Homo sapiens: one gene and its partners. Changing the gene in region 1 together with any one later gene gives a genetic interaction. Each region holds a gene or a part of one and is shown in the gene's direction. Other genes may lie near its edges.

Evidence for each region. Genes that interact genetically often act in the same process or in processes that back each other up.
Region 2: changes in COX6C (region 1) and TIMM23B together harm fitness more than expected from each alone (negative genetic interaction), as found in Homo sapiens cells (one large-scale study listed by BioGRID).
Region 3: changes in COX6C (region 1) and PGK1 together harm fitness more than expected from each alone (negative genetic interaction), as found in Homo sapiens cells (one large-scale study listed by BioGRID).
Region 4: changes in COX6C (region 1) and MAPKAP1 together harm fitness more than expected from each alone (negative genetic interaction), as found in Homo sapiens cells (one large-scale study listed by BioGRID).

What each region holds. Positions count from the first base shown.
Region 1 is NC_000008.11:99,882,879-99,887,824, reverse strand, and holds part of COX6C (cytochrome c oxidase subunit 6C), read left to right. Parts: intron 1-206; coding exon 207-320; 3' UTR 321-335; intron 336-4,946. UniProt on the Homo sapiens protein: Component of the cytochrome c oxidase, the last enzyme in the mitochondrial electron transport chain which drives oxidative phosphorylation.
Region 2 is NC_000010.11:49,940,586-49,944,852, forward strand, and holds the start of TIMM23B (mitochondrial import inner membrane translocase subunit Tim23B), read left to right. Parts: upstream 1-1,467; 5' UTR 1,468-1,609; coding exon 1,610-1,715; intron 1,716-2,649; exon of another isoform or gene 2,650-2,773; intron 2,774-4,267. Other genes in the region: PARG (poly(ADP-ribose) glycohydrolase), read right to left, coding at 924-1,140. UniProt on the Homo sapiens protein: May participate in the translocation of transit peptide-containing proteins across the mitochondrial inner membrane. the PAM complex.
Region 3 is NC_000023.11:78,121,248-78,124,747, forward strand, and holds part of PGK1 (phosphoglycerate kinase 1), read left to right. Parts: intron 1-1,587; coding exon 1,588-1,702; intron 1,703-1,947; coding exon 1,948-2,127; intron 2,128-3,500. UniProt on the Homo sapiens protein: Catalyzes one of the two ATP producing reactions in the glycolytic pathway via the reversible conversion of 1,3-diphosphoglycerate to 3-phosphoglycerate.
Region 4 is NC_000009.12:125,672,709-125,676,208, reverse strand, and holds part of MAPKAP1 (target of rapamycin complex 2 subunit MAPKAP1), read left to right. Parts: intron 1-911; exon of another isoform or gene 912-1,055; intron 1,056-3,500. UniProt on the Homo sapiens protein: Component of the mechanistic target of rapamycin complex 2 (mTORC2), which transduces signals from growth factors to pathways involved in proliferation, cytoskeletal organization, lipogenesis and anabolic output.

The sequences.
Region 1 (4,946 bases):
TCCCCATTCTTTTCTTTGCAAATTTAGCAGTTTCTTAGACTTTGTCTTCCTTTTTATCTGTCACCACCTCCACCCCTTAGGAAATGTAGGGTTTAAATTAAAGGGTGAACAAAAACATGTGTTCTACCTTGTCTTTATATATTATAATCTGGAATCTAATTTCCAGTAATCTGAAAAATAAACTCTAATGGATGGTTGCTTTTTAGTTTCGTGTGGCTGATCAAAGAAAGAAGGCATACGCAGATTTCTACAGAAACTACGATGTCATGAAAGATTTTGAGGAGATGAGGAAGGCTGGTATCTTTCAGAGTGTAAAGTAATCTTGGAATATAAAGGTAATATGGTTATTTGAAGTTACTTAAAAAAAAATTTCTAATTGTGGTAAAATGCAAATACAGGTGACTGTCCCTCACAATGTTTAGACTTAAGATTTTTTGACTTTACGATGGTGTGGAAGTGATACACATTTGGTAGAAACCATACTTTGAATTTTGATCTTTGTCCACATGAGCAATAAGTGGCACAATACTTTTGTGATGTGGGGGAGCACCAATGACCACATCCCCCAGTCAGAAACATAATCACAAGGGTAAACAGCTGATGCTGTACTCTGTAGTGTTGTGTGAGATACTCAGTGTTTTATTATAAGCTAGGCTTTGTGTTAGATGATTTTCTTCAGCTGTAGGCTAACATAAGTGTTCTGAGCACATTTAAGGTAGGGAAGGCTAAGCTATGATGTAAGTTAGGTGTATTAAATGCATTTTCAACTTAAGATATTTTAAACTTATGATGGTTTTATCAGAATGTAACCTGATGGTAAGTTAAGGAGCATCTATAATATAAAATTTGCCATCTTAACCATTTTTAATTGTACAGTTTAGTAGTGTTAAGTTCATTCACATTGTTGTGCAACCAGTCTCCAGAACTCGTCATCTTACAGAATTGAAACCCTATATCCATTAAGCAACCCATTCACACCTCCACTCAGACCCTGGCAGCCACTGTGTTACTTTCTAAGAATTTGGCTACCCCAGGCATCTCATAAGTAGAATCACACAGTATTTGTTTTCTTGTGACTGGCTTATTTCACTTAGCGTAGTGTACTCAAGGTTCATCCATGTTACAGCATGTGTCAGAATTTCCTTTCTTTTTAAAGCTGAATGATCTATTTTAGTTGTGTCACATTGTTATCCATTCATCCATCAGTAGATGCTTGGGTTGCTTCCACTTTTTGATTGTTGTGAGTGATGCTGTGAACCTAGGCATGCAAATATTCCTTCAAGGCCTTGCTATCAATTCTTTTGGGGTATATTCAAAAGTGGAATTCCTGGATCATATGATTTTTAATTTCTTAAGAAACTGCCATACCCTTTTCCATAGTGGCTGCACCATTTTACACTCTTTCCATCCTCCCCAACACTTGTTAATTTTTTTTTTAACAGGGTCTCCCTCTGTCACCCAGGCCGTAGTGCTGTAGTGCGATCATGGCTCACTGCAGCCTCAACCTCCCAGGCTCAAGGGATCTTCCTGCCTCAGCCTCCCAAGAAGCTGGCACTATAGGCATGTGCCACCACACCTGGCTAACTTCTTTATTTTTAGTAGAGACAGGGTTTCACCATATTACCTGGGCTGTGCTTGAATTCCTGGGCTCAGGCGATCCGTCCACCTTGGCCTCCCAAAGTGTTGGGATTACAGGCGTGAGCCACTGTGCCTGGCATAATTTTGGTATTTTTTGATAGTAGCCATCCTAATAGGTATGAGGTGGTATCATTGTGGTTTTGATTTGCATTTCCCTGATTATTTGTGTTCTTGAGCATCTTTTCATGTACTTATTGGCCATTTGTATGTTATCTTTGGAGAAATGTTTATTCAGTTCTGCTCATTTTCAAATTTGGTTTTTTGTTTATTGGTTGAGTTGTTCTGTATATATTCTGGATATTAACCCCTTATCAGATATGATTTGTAAATATTTTCTCCCATTTCATAGGTTGCCTTTTCACTCTGTTGTGTCCCTTGATGCACAGAAATTTTGATGTCGAATTTATTTTTATTTTTGTTCTGTGTGCTTTTAGTGTCATATTCAATAAATCATTGCCAAATCCAATGTCATGAAGTCTTTTTTATGTGTTCTTCTAAGACTTTTATAGTTTTAGCTCTTATGTTTAGATCTTTGATTCACTTGAATTTTTGTGTAGGGTGTAAAGATCCAACTGTATTCTTTTACATGTGGTATCCAGTTTTCCCGAAATCATTTAAGATTGTCCTCTTCCATGGAGTGGTCTTGGTACCTTGGTGAAATCATTTGACTCTAAATGCGAGAGTTTATTTCTGGGCTATTTCTTTAGTCTGTATGTCTGTCTTCGGGGCAGTACTACACTGTTTTGATTACAGTAGTCCGTTTTATCTAAGATATGTTTCAAGACCCCTCTAGTGGATTCTTGAAACCACAGATAGTACCAAACCCTGTATATATTATGTTGTTTTTCGTGTACGTACATACCTATGATGACGTTTAACTCATAAATTAGACATAGTAAGAGATGAGCAACAATAACAAAATAGAACAATTGTAGTGTATAGTAATAAAAGGTGAATGTGATCTCTCAATATCTTGCTGTACTGTACTCACCTGTTTTTGAACCACAGTTGACTGTGGGTAGAACTAAAGCGGTGGAAGGTTAAACCACAAATAAGGGATGACTGCTACACTGTAGCTTTGTAGTATGCTTTAAAATCAGTAAGTGTGAGTCCTCTAGCTTTGTTCTTTCTTTCACCCCACCCGGAGGGTGCTCTAGCTATTTGTGGTTCCTTAAGAGTCTGTGAATTTTAGGATGGATTTTTCTATTTCTGTAAAAATGCCATTGGGATTTTGATAGGGATTGCATTAAATCTGTAGATTACTTTGGTAGTATGGACATCGTAACAATATTAAGTATTCCAATCCATGAACACAGGATGTCTTTCCTCTTATTTGTATCTTTAATTTCTTTTAGCAGTAGTTTGCATCTTTAATTTCTTTTAGTGTTGCTACTCTCTTACTATGCCTAATTTATGAGTTAAGCTTTATTATAGGTATGTGTATATATAGGAAAAAACGTAGCTGTATAGGGTTTGGTACCATCCATAGTTTCAGTAATTCACTGGAAGGGTCTTGAAACATATCACCTTGGATAAAAGGAGACTACTATAATCAAAACAATGTGTCCAAGGACACACATTTCTTTCCGTACTTTTCCTTTATTTTATAGTGACATGTTTCAGTTTCCTTCTTACTTCCTTATGTGTATATTCTGTATTTTCTTTGTGGTTACCATGGGGATTGCATGAATGAGATTTGCTAATTTTTTTAGCAGTATACAGGTATATATCTGTTTCATCTAGGTCAGTGTTTAAGTCTTTCATATTCCTGATTAAATACATTCCTAAGTATTATTTTTGGTGCTATTATAAATAGAATTATTTTCTTAATTTCCTTTATTAGGCATTCCTTTATTTCCTTCATTGTTGGTGTGTAGAAAGAGCTGATTTTTGTATCCTCCAACTTAGTAGAATTCATGTATTCTGACACTTGTGTGTTAGAAATCTTTAGGGTTTGCTGGAGGTAAGATTATATGATCTGTAAACAGATAGTTTTACTTACTCCTTTCCTTTTTGGATGTTGCTTATTCCTTCTTGCCTCATTGCTCTGGCTAGGACTTCCAGTACTACAATGAATAGAAGTGGCAAGAGCGGGCATCCTTGTCTGGTTCTAGGTATTAGAGGAAAAGCTTTCACGTTTTCCATGTTCAGTATACTAGACTTGTCCTTTTTGGCCATTGTTGGGTTGAAGTACATTCCTTCTGTTGATAGTTTTGATCATGAAAGGATGTTGAATTTTGTCAAGTACTTTTTCTGCATTTTTTGAGATGTGTTTTTTATCCTTCATTCTGTCAGTGTGGTATGTCACATCTATTGATTTGCATATGTTGAACTATCCTTGCATCCTAGGGATAAATCCCACTTAATCATAGTACATGATTCTTTTAATGCGATGTCAAATCTGGTTTGCTAGTGTTTTGTTGACGATTTTTGCATCTGTGTTAAAGGATTTGGCCTATAGTTTTCTCGTGTGTTTGTCTTTGATATCAGGATAATGCTGGCCTTATAGAATGAATGTGGAAATGTTCCCTTTTCCTCACTGTTTTTGGAAAAACTTGAGGAGGATTGGTGCTGGTTTCATAGAGGGCTGGGCATGGTGGCTCATGCCTGTAATCCCAGCACTTTGGGAGGCTGAGAAAGGAGGATCACTATAATCCAGAAGTTAGAGATCAGCCTGTGCAACATGGCAAGACCCCATCTCTACCAAAAAAAAAATATATATATATATATATACACACACACACACACACACATACATATATACACACACACACATATATATACACACACACAGATATATATATAGTTAGCTGGGTGTGGTGGTACATGCCTGTAGTCTCAGTTACTTGGGAGGCTGAGGCAGGAGGTTCACTTGAGCACAGGAGTTTAAGGCTGCATAAGCTATGATCACACCACTGCACTCCATCCTGGATAACAGAATATGAGACCCTGTCTCAAAAAAGTTTGGTAGGATTCACCATATGGTCTTGGACTCTTGTTTTTTGAAGTTTTTGGCTACTGATTAAAAATTCCTACTAGTTATAGACGTTCAGATTATTGTTTTCCTGATCCAGTCTTGGTTAGATTGTGTTTCTAGAGTGGGTGTGGTAGCTCATAAGGCCTGTAATCCCAGCACTTTGGGAGACCAAAGCAGGTGAATTGCTTGAGCCCAGGAGTTTGAAACCAGCCTGGGCAACATGGCGAAACCCCGTCTCTACAAAAAAAATACAAAAAATAATGTGGGTGTGATGGCACACGCCTGCAGTCCCAGCTACCTGGGAAGATTACCTGAGCCTGGGAGGTCAAGG
Region 2 (4,267 bases), on another chromosome or scaffold:
CGGCTCACTGCAACCTCCGCCTCCCGGATGCCAGCGATTCTCCTGCCTCACCTGCCTCAGCCTCCCGAGTAGCTGGGATTACAGTTGCCCGCCACCACGCTAGGCTAATTTTTTGTATTTTTAGCAGAGACGGGGTTTCACCATATTGGTAAGGCTGGTCTTGAGCTCCTGACCTCAGGTGATCCACCCGCCCCAGCCTCCCAAAGCTCAGGGATTACAGGCAAAACCACCGCGCCCGGCCTCGGTTGCACTCCTGAAACACTTCTTACTTCCTCTTCATCTAACTCCTACTCATTCTACAGTCCTCAGAATAAGCATCTCATCTTCTGGAGGACTATTTTCGATTCCATAAATTCAGTTAGGTAAAACAATCTGTCATTCATCTATCAGAACATCCATTACCTTTTATTATATTAACTTTTGCTATCGTCTATCTCTCCAGATAGATTTTAAGGTATGAAGGCAGAGGCCAAGTTTCTCTCGTTCAACACTGTATACCAGGGACGGGTACAATGCCAGCTTAAACTAATAGCTCTGCACCCTGGGACCCAGAATCTGAACAAGTGAAGTTGTTTTCTTCCTATCTAGAGGCTGAAGCGCCCTACTGTTTTACATACACAATTAGATCTCCTTGACGACTAAGGCAATTTCTCAATCAAACCTGAAGAAGCAAACAGGTGGTGGAGTCTCCTGCCATTTTCCGCCCTGTGAGTGACTGCTCATCAGAGTTTCTCACATCAATCGCACTGGGAAAAATGCGGCCCCATTCACCCACTAGTGGCTTTGGTAGCTCAGCAAGTGGACCTCAAGAGTGACGATGCACACAAGACCAGAAAGGAGTGACTGGAGCCCCTGGGTCCTCAGACTGAGACCAGAAGGTTCGGGCCGAGGCGAAGGACAAAGATTTTTATTTTCCCACGTACCAAGCGAGGTGGCGCTGCCTCTGTGCTGTCCCGCCCGCCCTGGGACGCAGGCTGGCGAGGACGGTGGGACCCTGAACTGCACGTGAGCGTCCTTGGGGTCGAGGACGCGCCTCTGCCTGCTGGGAAAGCTCCGGGCGTCCGAAGCAGCCGGCGAAGTTGTAGCGGCGCCCCAGCGGGGTCGCTTGGTGCAGGGTTCACAGCCGGGGCCCGCATTCATGCTGGGACCAGCAGCGCACTGTCCCCGGGCCGGCCCGGGCGGAGAGCCTCATTCACTAACCCTGAGAGAGATGGACTGCGCCTCCTTCTCAGCGCCTGCCTGCACCATTCCCTCTCTGCCGCTGCCTGCTTCTGCAATTGCTGATCCGCCGGCCTCCCAAGTCAGGCCGTAAACACTCGCCTGCCTTCCCTCTTCCACTGGCACCCCACCTGCCTCAATGCGCCGCTTTGATTCGGGATTCGTTCACTTTCCCACCACCGGAAAGCTGCCGTCAGGCGCTTCCGGCTTCCGGGGCGCACACTGCCGCAAAGCGGAAGTGTGGCGCTTAACGGGAACCGGCGCCCGGAATGTCAGCGTGTGAAGTAGGCGCTGGCAACGCGGGGTTACCCGCTGTTATTGAGGAGTAACGGCCCAGCGGACCACCCAGGCTTGAGGCAGCGGCGGGAACCACTCGGTTTGCTGCGATACCATGGAAGGAGGCGGGGGAAGCGGCGACAAAACCACAGGGGTATTGGCCGGCTTTTTCGGAGCCGGCGAAGCAGGTTACTCGCACGCGGATTTGGCTGGCGTCCCGCGTAAGTATGGGGCCTAGCTTGCGATTATTTCTGACTGGTTCTTGCGTTTACACTAAAGTTGCGCGTCCCATGTTTTATGTTGTTGGTTTTTTTTTCCTTGCTGGCGTTTACAAGCTTAAGTACCAGTGGTGGGGTTAGTGTATCTGCATGGCTGCTCTTTCAAGATAGAAAGGCCTAAAAAAGGGCCACGGATCTCCTGGGGAAGCTGTCCGTGATTGACCTGGACTCGCGAGATGATGCATGTTTTCTTAGGTTTATATCCAAGCCTCGTACGTTTTGTGTGTGGTGGGCCGTGTGATTGACCCTTAAGAGTAGAGCCCAGCTTTGGGAGTAAATGTATTCCAAATAGCAAGCCCGTAGTTAACTTTTTAGTACACAGTGACATATTCTGAGCCTCCAAGTAGCCGTAAGGGCAGAATATTCAGTAATATTGCATGTAAGTGAGAAATAAATATGACTTGGGACAGGCTAGGAAACCTTCTTTAGGAGCTAGGAAGTAAGCTGAACTTTAAAGGTGATATATAGACATGAAGAAAGAAGCCAGGTAAGAATTATAGGAAAGGAAATAGGCAACATCAAGGTATACAGAGGCATAAATATCTTGCCTTTGCCTCTCCTCGGTCTTGTGAATATGTTTTCCAGAACTTTGGTACTTTGTAACTGTGGTTGTTCAACTAGATAAATAGAACTTGGACCTAAAGATAGGCAGTTGGTCGTGGATAAAGCCTTTACGAAAGTACTTTCTTTTTAGAGAATCCTTGTAATATTTCTCTAGGTATTTTATACTAAGGAACAACAACAACGAAATATGTTCAGACTGACTCTAGTGCAAAAAAATATAAAAGACCTTTCATTTCCCTGGTGTCACCTTTGTCAAAAAACTGAATCTACAACACATGGTGTTTTGTTTCGTTTTTTTTTTGTTTGTTTTTAGAGTCAGGACCTCGTTCTGTCACCCATGTTGGGGTGCGGTGGCATGATTATAGTTCACTGAAGCCTGGCACTCCTGAGCTCAAACAATCCTCCCCTCTAAGCCTCCTAAGTAGCTGGGAATCTAGGTACGTACCACCACACCTGGCTAATTTTTAAAATTTTTTTTTTGACTTATTGTGGAGATGGGGTCTCCCTGTGTTGTCCAAGCTGGTCTCAAACTCTCGAACTCAGGCCATCCTCCTGTCTCGGCCTCCCAAAATGCTGGGATTCCTAGGCCTGAGCTACTACTTTACCTGTTTAGAACACAGTTTCATATTAATCTTAGTATTTCTGAGTTTCAGAGCACAAAGGGCATATACACTTCCTTAATGTGACAATATTGTTAAATTAATTTGATTAAGATTTGAAGGTAAATTGGGGGACCAGGGAATGAACACCATTTACTGAGCTTTTACAGTGTGCTAGCTACTTTTCTGGGGGCAGGACTATAGTGGTTTTTGTGGGTTTTTTTTTTTTTTTTTTTTTTTGAAAAGAGGACCCTTGCGCTCACAGAGCTTACATAATACTGAGGTAAACCAACAAACATAAATTAAAACATTGCCTTTAGTGATAAGTGCTGTAAAGGGAATAAAGCAGAGTCATGAGATTGTGATGGAAGCAGGATGCCATTTTAGAGCGGATTAGGGAAAACATCTCAAGGGAGTTGACATTTGAGCTGTGACCCAAATACAGTACAAATGCTTGGGAGGCAAGTATCCAGGAAAATAGCTAGTGCAAATGTCCTGAAACAAAACAAATTTGGCATGTTTAAGGAACAGCTCTTAGGCCAGTCTGTCTTCGTAGTTACAAGGGAGTTGGATCAATTGAAGCTTGTGAAATCAGAGAGGTAGGGAATGACAGCTAATGTAGGATTTTGTAAGTTATGGTAAGGAGTTTCGATTTTCTTAAGAAAAATCACGTAGTTGCTATGTAGACAGTGAATTGAAGGGGTAAGAGAAAGCAAGGAGTTAGGAAATTGTTGCTGTGAGATATGATGGTTGGACTAGGATGGTAGCAATAGAGAAGATAAGTAACACAATTCAAAATGGGTATTAAAAATAGAACAAGCAGGACTCCTAATTGATGAAAAGATAGAGGCATGGGTGATGCATAGGTTTGTAAATAACTGCTGAGATACAGAAGGATCCAAAGATGATAGGTTTTACTGTTTTCAATGTTAGTGAATTCAGGTCTGGCCCTCTCAAAGTTTGTGTTTTCTTTTGCACAGACCCACATACCTGTGGTAATGACCCAAGGATTCTCAACCTTGCCACAGTAAATCAATCGTTAATAGTAATATGTGAAGGAACTGCCTTGAAATAGTTAGATACAACATGTACACAGTCAGAAAACCCAACCCAACCACTGTTTTTCCCATGGAATTGATTAGTCTTTTCTCAGTCTTATTTTGTAATTTATATAGTCACCAAGCATTCTTGTAGTAAAGTGAAAGAAATTAGCTTTGTAAATGGCCTGGACTACACTTCCTGTAAGTTCAAAAATCAGATCTATGACACTGCGATTATCTTATTGGTGTAAAAGCCTGAGCCACCAGTGGAAGACCTGGTTTGGGATTGAGG
Region 3 (3,500 bases), on another chromosome or scaffold:
GCATTGCCTTTGGCTGTTAGGTATCTCTTGTAATAATCTCCTATTTATTACTTTCATTCTGTTGATTTGTTGAAGAAACAGGCATTTGAGCTGTAAGCTATTCTTTAGAAGAAATTGAACTCCTTTCTAACTGCTTTCTTCCCTTTGTGTGTGTATGTGTGTGTGTGTGTGTGTGTGTATTTAAAACAATCTATCTTTACCCTTGGTGGTAACCAATCTTTACAACTGAAATAAATAGTAAATAGTTTCTTGCCATCTGTTCACCCACATCACTGTTGTTTCATACCTCCTTTTCACAAATCCTAGCATAGGGTTTCTCACTGGATAGGCATTATCTTGTTTATTGAATGAAGAAGGAAACAGACACAAGGTGGTTTGTCCACGTAAGTGGGATTTAGTTATATGGGAATGTTTATGGAAGGCAGGCTATTACTTTGTTTCTCTTTAGTTTGGATCTTTTTTGTCTCATAGGGAGATGCAAGATACATGTGTATTTATCTTATTTCCATGTACTAGAAAATAAGATCCCAAAGGGTAGGGATCTTTCTGTTGCCTTTGCCCTGTGATGTTTCTCAAAGACCTAGAATAGTGCTTGGCACAGAGTAGGTGCCCAGTAAATGTGTTGAATTGGGTGACCCAATAAAAATAAATGCCATAAAGAAAATGTCCCAGGCTGGGCATGGTGGCTTAGGCATGTAACCCTAGTGCTTTGGAAGGCCAAGGCAGGAGGATCACTTGAGCTTAGGAGTTTGAAACTAGCCTGGGCAACATAGTGAGACCTTGTCTCTACAAAAAAATTTAAAAAGAAAAATTATCCAGGGGTAGTGTTGTACGCCTGTGGTCGCAGCTACTTGAGAGGCTGAGGCAAGAGGATTGCTTGAGCCTAGGAGTTCCAGGTTACAGTGAGCTATGATTGTACCACTGCACTCCAGCCTCGGCAACAGAGTGAGACTTTGTGTTGAAAAGAGAGAGAGAAAAAAATGTCCCAGCAACTGAGCATAGGGTATGACTTTAGGAATATATATTTTTGTTCAGTATATATTTATTTAGTATACAGTCCAGTCAATCCCTGCTCTAAGGTTAGGATAATTCTGAGTGGCTCTGGGATCCCACAATTAGCAATCGTGCTTAGATACAATTAGCAATCTTGATGCTCTGAATTTGTGTGTGTGTGTGTGTGTGTGTGTGTGTGTGTGTGTGTGTGTTGGGGAATGTGCAAAATAGATGTGGAACCCATAGTTTCCTTAGACAAGAGTAGGTCTTCTGAGCCCTGCTTAAAAAAAGAATATGGATTTAAATCTGTTGTCCATCAGCTTCTAGGTAGAATTAAAAAAAAATGTATTGATGGTAAGTGGGGTGAGGAATTTTTAAAAAGATACACTGATGTCTGGAGCCATACCTTAAAAGGATTTCTTAGAAATGGATTGAGTTTTTGGGTTGGAGAAACATAGGGCAAAGTTAGGCAGTACTTTTGTCACTTTGAGACTTTCTCTGTTCCTGTGCCTTGAAATAGAAACTCAGTTTCTATGTAATACCACTTCTCTAGTCCATTCTTCTTTAAGTGATGATTCTTGCTTTCTCTTGTAGAGCTAAAGTTGCAGACAAGATCCAGCTCATCAATAATATGCTGGACAAAGTCAATGAGATGATTATTGGTGGTGGAATGGCTTTTACCTTCCTTAAGGTGCTCAACAACATGGAGGTAGGAAACAAATGCCAAGTGGATGTGAAATAGCTCTCCATGATAATAGCAGGTTGTATAAATGTAAAAAGAAAACAGTCTTTTGACATGAGCCCTGAAAATTCCCATTTTTATTTATTTTGGCAAGTCTTTCGTCTTTGCATTGTTCCTTTATATTGTATTGTGTCTGGTTCCTGTCTGCTTTGTGAGGCAGTCTTGTTCTTAGTATAGATGCTGACCTCCATCATTTTGGCTCCCCTGTGTAGATTGGCACTTCTCTGTTTGATGAAGAGGGAGCCAAGATTGTCAAAGACCTAATGTCCAAAGCTGAGAAGAATGGTGTGAAGATTACCTTGCCTGTTGACTTTGTCACTGCTGACAAGTTTGATGAGAATGCCAAGACTGGCCAAGCCACTGTGGCTTCTGGCATACCTGCTGGCTGGATGGTGAGTCACTTGAGTGGGTTGGTAGTGTGAGTGAACAGAAACTCTGTGGTGTCATTTATTCATTGATTCAGCCAATCAACAAGCATTTTAAAACAATCTCTATAGGAGATCTGTCAGAGAGGGCTCTGCATGTTGCAGTGAGTCCCTCATGGAAGAATCCATGGGAGAAAAGCAGTGCTATTGGATTACTGGCCTTCAGTAATGCAGTAATGTGTTGCAAAACTTTGTTGTTGTTGTTTTTTTTTTTTTTTTTGAGACAGAGTCTCGCTGTGTCACCAGGCTGGAGTGCAGTGGCATGATCTCGGCTCACTGCAACCTCTGCCTCCCAGGTTCAAGTGATTCTCCTGCCTAACCCTCCCCAGTAGCTGGGACTACAGGTGTGCACCACCATGCCCAGCTAATTTTTGTATTTTTCATAGAGACGGGGTTTCACCATGTTGGTCAGGATGATCTCAATCTCTTGACCTCATGATCCACCTGCTGCGGCCTCCCAAAGTGCTGGGATTACAGGCGTGAGCCACTGTGCCCGGCCCATTTTTAGTTTTATCTGTTTTTTCTTCATCTGTTTAATGTGTATTAAGTACTTACTGCGTACTGGAGATAGTGTCATGTACTTTCATGGTTTGGGTTGTTTTGGATTATGTTGCTATCTAGAAAGCTATATAAGAAAACTTTCTCATATGAAAAAATTAAGTATACTGATTACAAGCAGGGAGAAATGTAAGTGTATATTAAAGACTAATATAGTTGATTTTAGGGTGCTCCAAATATCATTTTGATTGCTGTATAAAATTGTATCATGTTTTTACATGCTAGTTTGCTTATTTTTCTTTTCAGGCATTCACGTATTATTTAGTTCAGTGTTTCTCAAAGTATGTTCCTAAGACCAGCAGTATCAGTATCATTTTTGGAACTTGTTAAAAATGCAAGTTCTTGGGTCCCACCCCAGACCTACCGAATCAGGAACTGAGGGTGGGGCCAAACAGTCTGTTTGAATAAGCCCTCCTGGTGATTCTCATGCATGGCAAAGTTTGAGTACTACTGATCTAGTTTACTGTCATTCCCAACACTATTGACATCTGTTGTTTTGTGGGGGACTGTTGAATTGTAAGGTTGTTTAAAGCATCCTTGGCCACTAGATGCCAGTAGCACCCTCCCAAGTTGCAACAACAATATTTCTAGACATTGCCACATGCCTATCTATTATGAAGGGGCAGAACTGACCTGGTTGAGAACCATTGATCTAGTTTTCACTAACATAAATAGTGTGGCTAAGAATGTCTTTATTAAATAACTTTTGAGGTTTTCCGTTAGACTTGATCTTCCATACAGTAGAATTTTTGAGTATAAAGGGCATGAACAGGTTTATAAAG
Region 4 (3,500 bases), on another chromosome or scaffold:
TTGGTAAATATTACCAAATTACCGTCTAAAAAGTCCCAGTTTTCATTCCTTCATATTGTGCATGAGAGTGCCCATTTCTCTGAACCCTTGCCAGAGTTAGATTTTTAAAAATCTTTTTGATCTGTGCACAACTGATCAGAGAGTACAATTTGTTTTTATCCGTGATATGTATGTCCTTGTCTTGGAAATCAAACATAGCTTCAAATGATAATTTGCTGCTCTTTGGGAGATTTTTTAAAATATTCTTTTGGGTTTTGAAAAGTAGTCTTGTTAGAATAAGTTGAATAGTGTTCCAAGGGGACAATTTTGAAGGGCACGTTGAAGAGATGCTCTTGTATTACGAAAAAAAGACAATCCTTTATTTATAATCACACACTTACACCTGGCACATTCATATATGACTTATCTCTACAACAAAATTGAATAGTCCTTGGAAGTTAGACAGCAACATTTATTGAACTCCTGCCATGTATAACAGCCTTTGTTGCCAGAAGGAATATGGTGTTATGAACCCTGTCCTTGTGGAACTTATAGTCTAAGTCTTTAAGTACATGTAATTGGAGGTAAAAAGTGACATACACAATAATATGTTTTCTGGGGCAGTCCTGTGGGAGTTCCATATCAGAGCTGGTAGGGAATAAATATTTTTTGAATGAATCATACAGATTCCTTAATGTATGAAGTCATAGTGTCCTAATAGAGAAGATATCTGCTGCTGTTGAGGCATTTGTTCTGGGAGGATAAAGCTGGGAAGTTGGTATGTGCCTTCAGAAGTGTTTGCCCATTCCTCTTATCTTCAGAAGTGATCTATTTCCCTAGAATAGATTTTATTGAGGGCACTTCAGTATACTTTTGTCACTTTGCCTTTTGCCATTTGACTTTTTGGTGCTAGAACACCTATTAAATATCTGATCACTTCTCGGCCTTTTGGCTAAGATCAAGTGTATTAAATGTGTGACTTCTCATTAAAGCCCTTGTTTTTGCAAGGGAGAACTATTCAGTATGAATTTGAAAGCACCTGCCTCTCTACTGGTGACTAGCTGCCTTCCTTTCATGCCAGGAAGATGGCTTATTGTGATTGCTGTAGAAGGATGTTTGCAGCTCTGATCTGTGATACTATGCTTCCACAAATACTCTCATTTATAAATAAATGTGTGGTGTATACATTTTTTATGGTTATAGAGAAGTTTGTATTTTTACAAGTGAAATTTAAATGCTCATTGTTAATTTCATATTTTTTTCTGATCAATATCCTTAAAATGGTAGATTGACACTAATACTTCAGGGACCAGATATCTCAGAAATTTGATGCTTAAAGGAATCCCATGGTATTAGGAGATGTACTCGGTCTGTATTAGGGTATTAACTTTTTGATTCAGGGATACCTTACTCACCTTTGCATTTCCCATTAGCCTCAGAGTAAAATAAGTACTCAAGGAATATATTAAGAGGAAAAAAGTGAAGATTAATGTAATTTGCTTGATTAGAGATGCTCCTCAGTTAAATTTCTTTTTAATCTCAGTATCTTTATTTTAAGACCCACTTTAAGACACATCAGCAGAATGATGTGTTTCCAGACAACAATTTTTAAAACCTTAGTTAACTGTAAGGATTTATTAGCTAGATTTCCTCTCTATGTTCCATTTCTAGAAGAAACAGATTACAAGAAAATCTGGTGTTATAAGTCCTTCTGAAAGTAAGTATCTTCTAGGACTGTTCCTGGAAACATAGTCAATCCAGCTTTCATATTCCTTGTACTTCTCAACAATTTTGCAGGGGCAGGGAAGTCACTCAGATGACTTGCAGTGTCCTCTATCACAAAGGAAGCACAGACTTATTTTATGTGCCACGAACTTACTAAGACAGATGGGATATTGACATATTTTAGGACTACTTTAAGCAAGAATTGATCATTGAAATTATTGATTTTTTATCATTATTATTAATAGCTAACATTTATTTAATTACATGCCATGTATTTTTTTGAGCATTTTACCTGCATTATCTCCTGAAGCTTCCATTTTATAAATGAAGGAAAAAAAAAAGGGAGGCTCAAAAAGGTAAAGTATTTTGACTGAGATCTTATAGCTAACGAGTAATAGGGCCAGGGTTTGAACCCTTTCTGTCTCTAGGGCCTAGTACCTAACCGTTGTCCTGCAATATTTTCTTTGTTGAGTATTTTCACTTAACTGAGAGGGTGCTATCTTGTTACTAGAACAAATATTATTACAGTGTTTTTTGTATGTTTTGTTTTGTTTTGTTTTTAGAAGACAGGGTCTCACTATGTCACCCAGGCTGGAGTGCAATGGTGCAATCATAGCTCACTGCAGCCTTGAATGCTGGGGCTCAAGTGATCCCCCCACTTCAGCCTCATGAGTAGCTATGACTACAGGCATGTCCCACCATGCTCAGCTAATTAAAAAATAATAATTATTATATATATATATTTTTGTAGAGATAGAGTTTTGATTGTGTTGCCCATGTTGGTCTTGAACTCCTGGACTCAAGCAGTCCTCCTGCCTCGGCCCCCCAAAGGGTTGAGAGTACAGGTGTGAATCACTGTGCCCGGCCTCATTACAGTTTTAACAGGACTGAGGAAGCAGTTTTTATAATTAAGTTTCTAAAATAAGAAGTTGATTGTATAGTAGGTAATTTTGATTATAAATTTTATTTTAAAAACACAGGCCAGGCATGGTGGCTCACGCCTGTAATCACAGCACTTTGGGAGGCCAAGGCGGGCGGATCAACTGAGGTCGGGAGTTTGAGACCAGCCTGACCAACATGGAGAAACCCCATTTCTACTAAAAATACAAAATTAGCTGGGCATGGTGGCGCATCCCTGTAATCCCAGCTACGCGGGAGGCTGAGGCCGGAGAATCTTGAACCTGGGAGGTGGAGGTTGCAGTGAGCCAAGATCACGCCACTGCACTCCAGCCTGGGCAACAAGCGCGATACCCTGTCTCAGAAAAAACACAACAACAACAACAACAAAAACACAATACTATCTTGACAGGAAAATATATTCATTGAGCAACATTAATTTGGTGGTACATCATTTTTATAAAACCCCTAGTAACTCTGAAAGCATTGTCTGTGCCCTTTTAAACACTTCACAATCATATGACAGGAGGGGAAATGTAAACTGATGAAATAGAGTTTTGTACTTTAGCACATCATTTGAGGAAAATACAACTTGTTCCCCCATGACCTTATAAAGTAATGAGAAGATTGCATGATAGTGAAGGGAGAAAGAAAGGAAAATATATTGTTTTAACAGTAGTTATGTGCTTCGAGTGGCCTGACTTGTAAGGAGTTGCTGTGATTTGTTTTGCAAGAGTGCAAGCCTTCCTTTCTGATTCTATAGAGATCTCATTGACTAGAGCTGCAGCCCCTAGTGCTTATAAGGATTTCCTTTCAGCTTAGACTAAATCCTTTTAAGCTCCACAGAACAGGGATAAATGTTGATTTTCAAGGTGGCATTTTACTACACTGAATGTGTC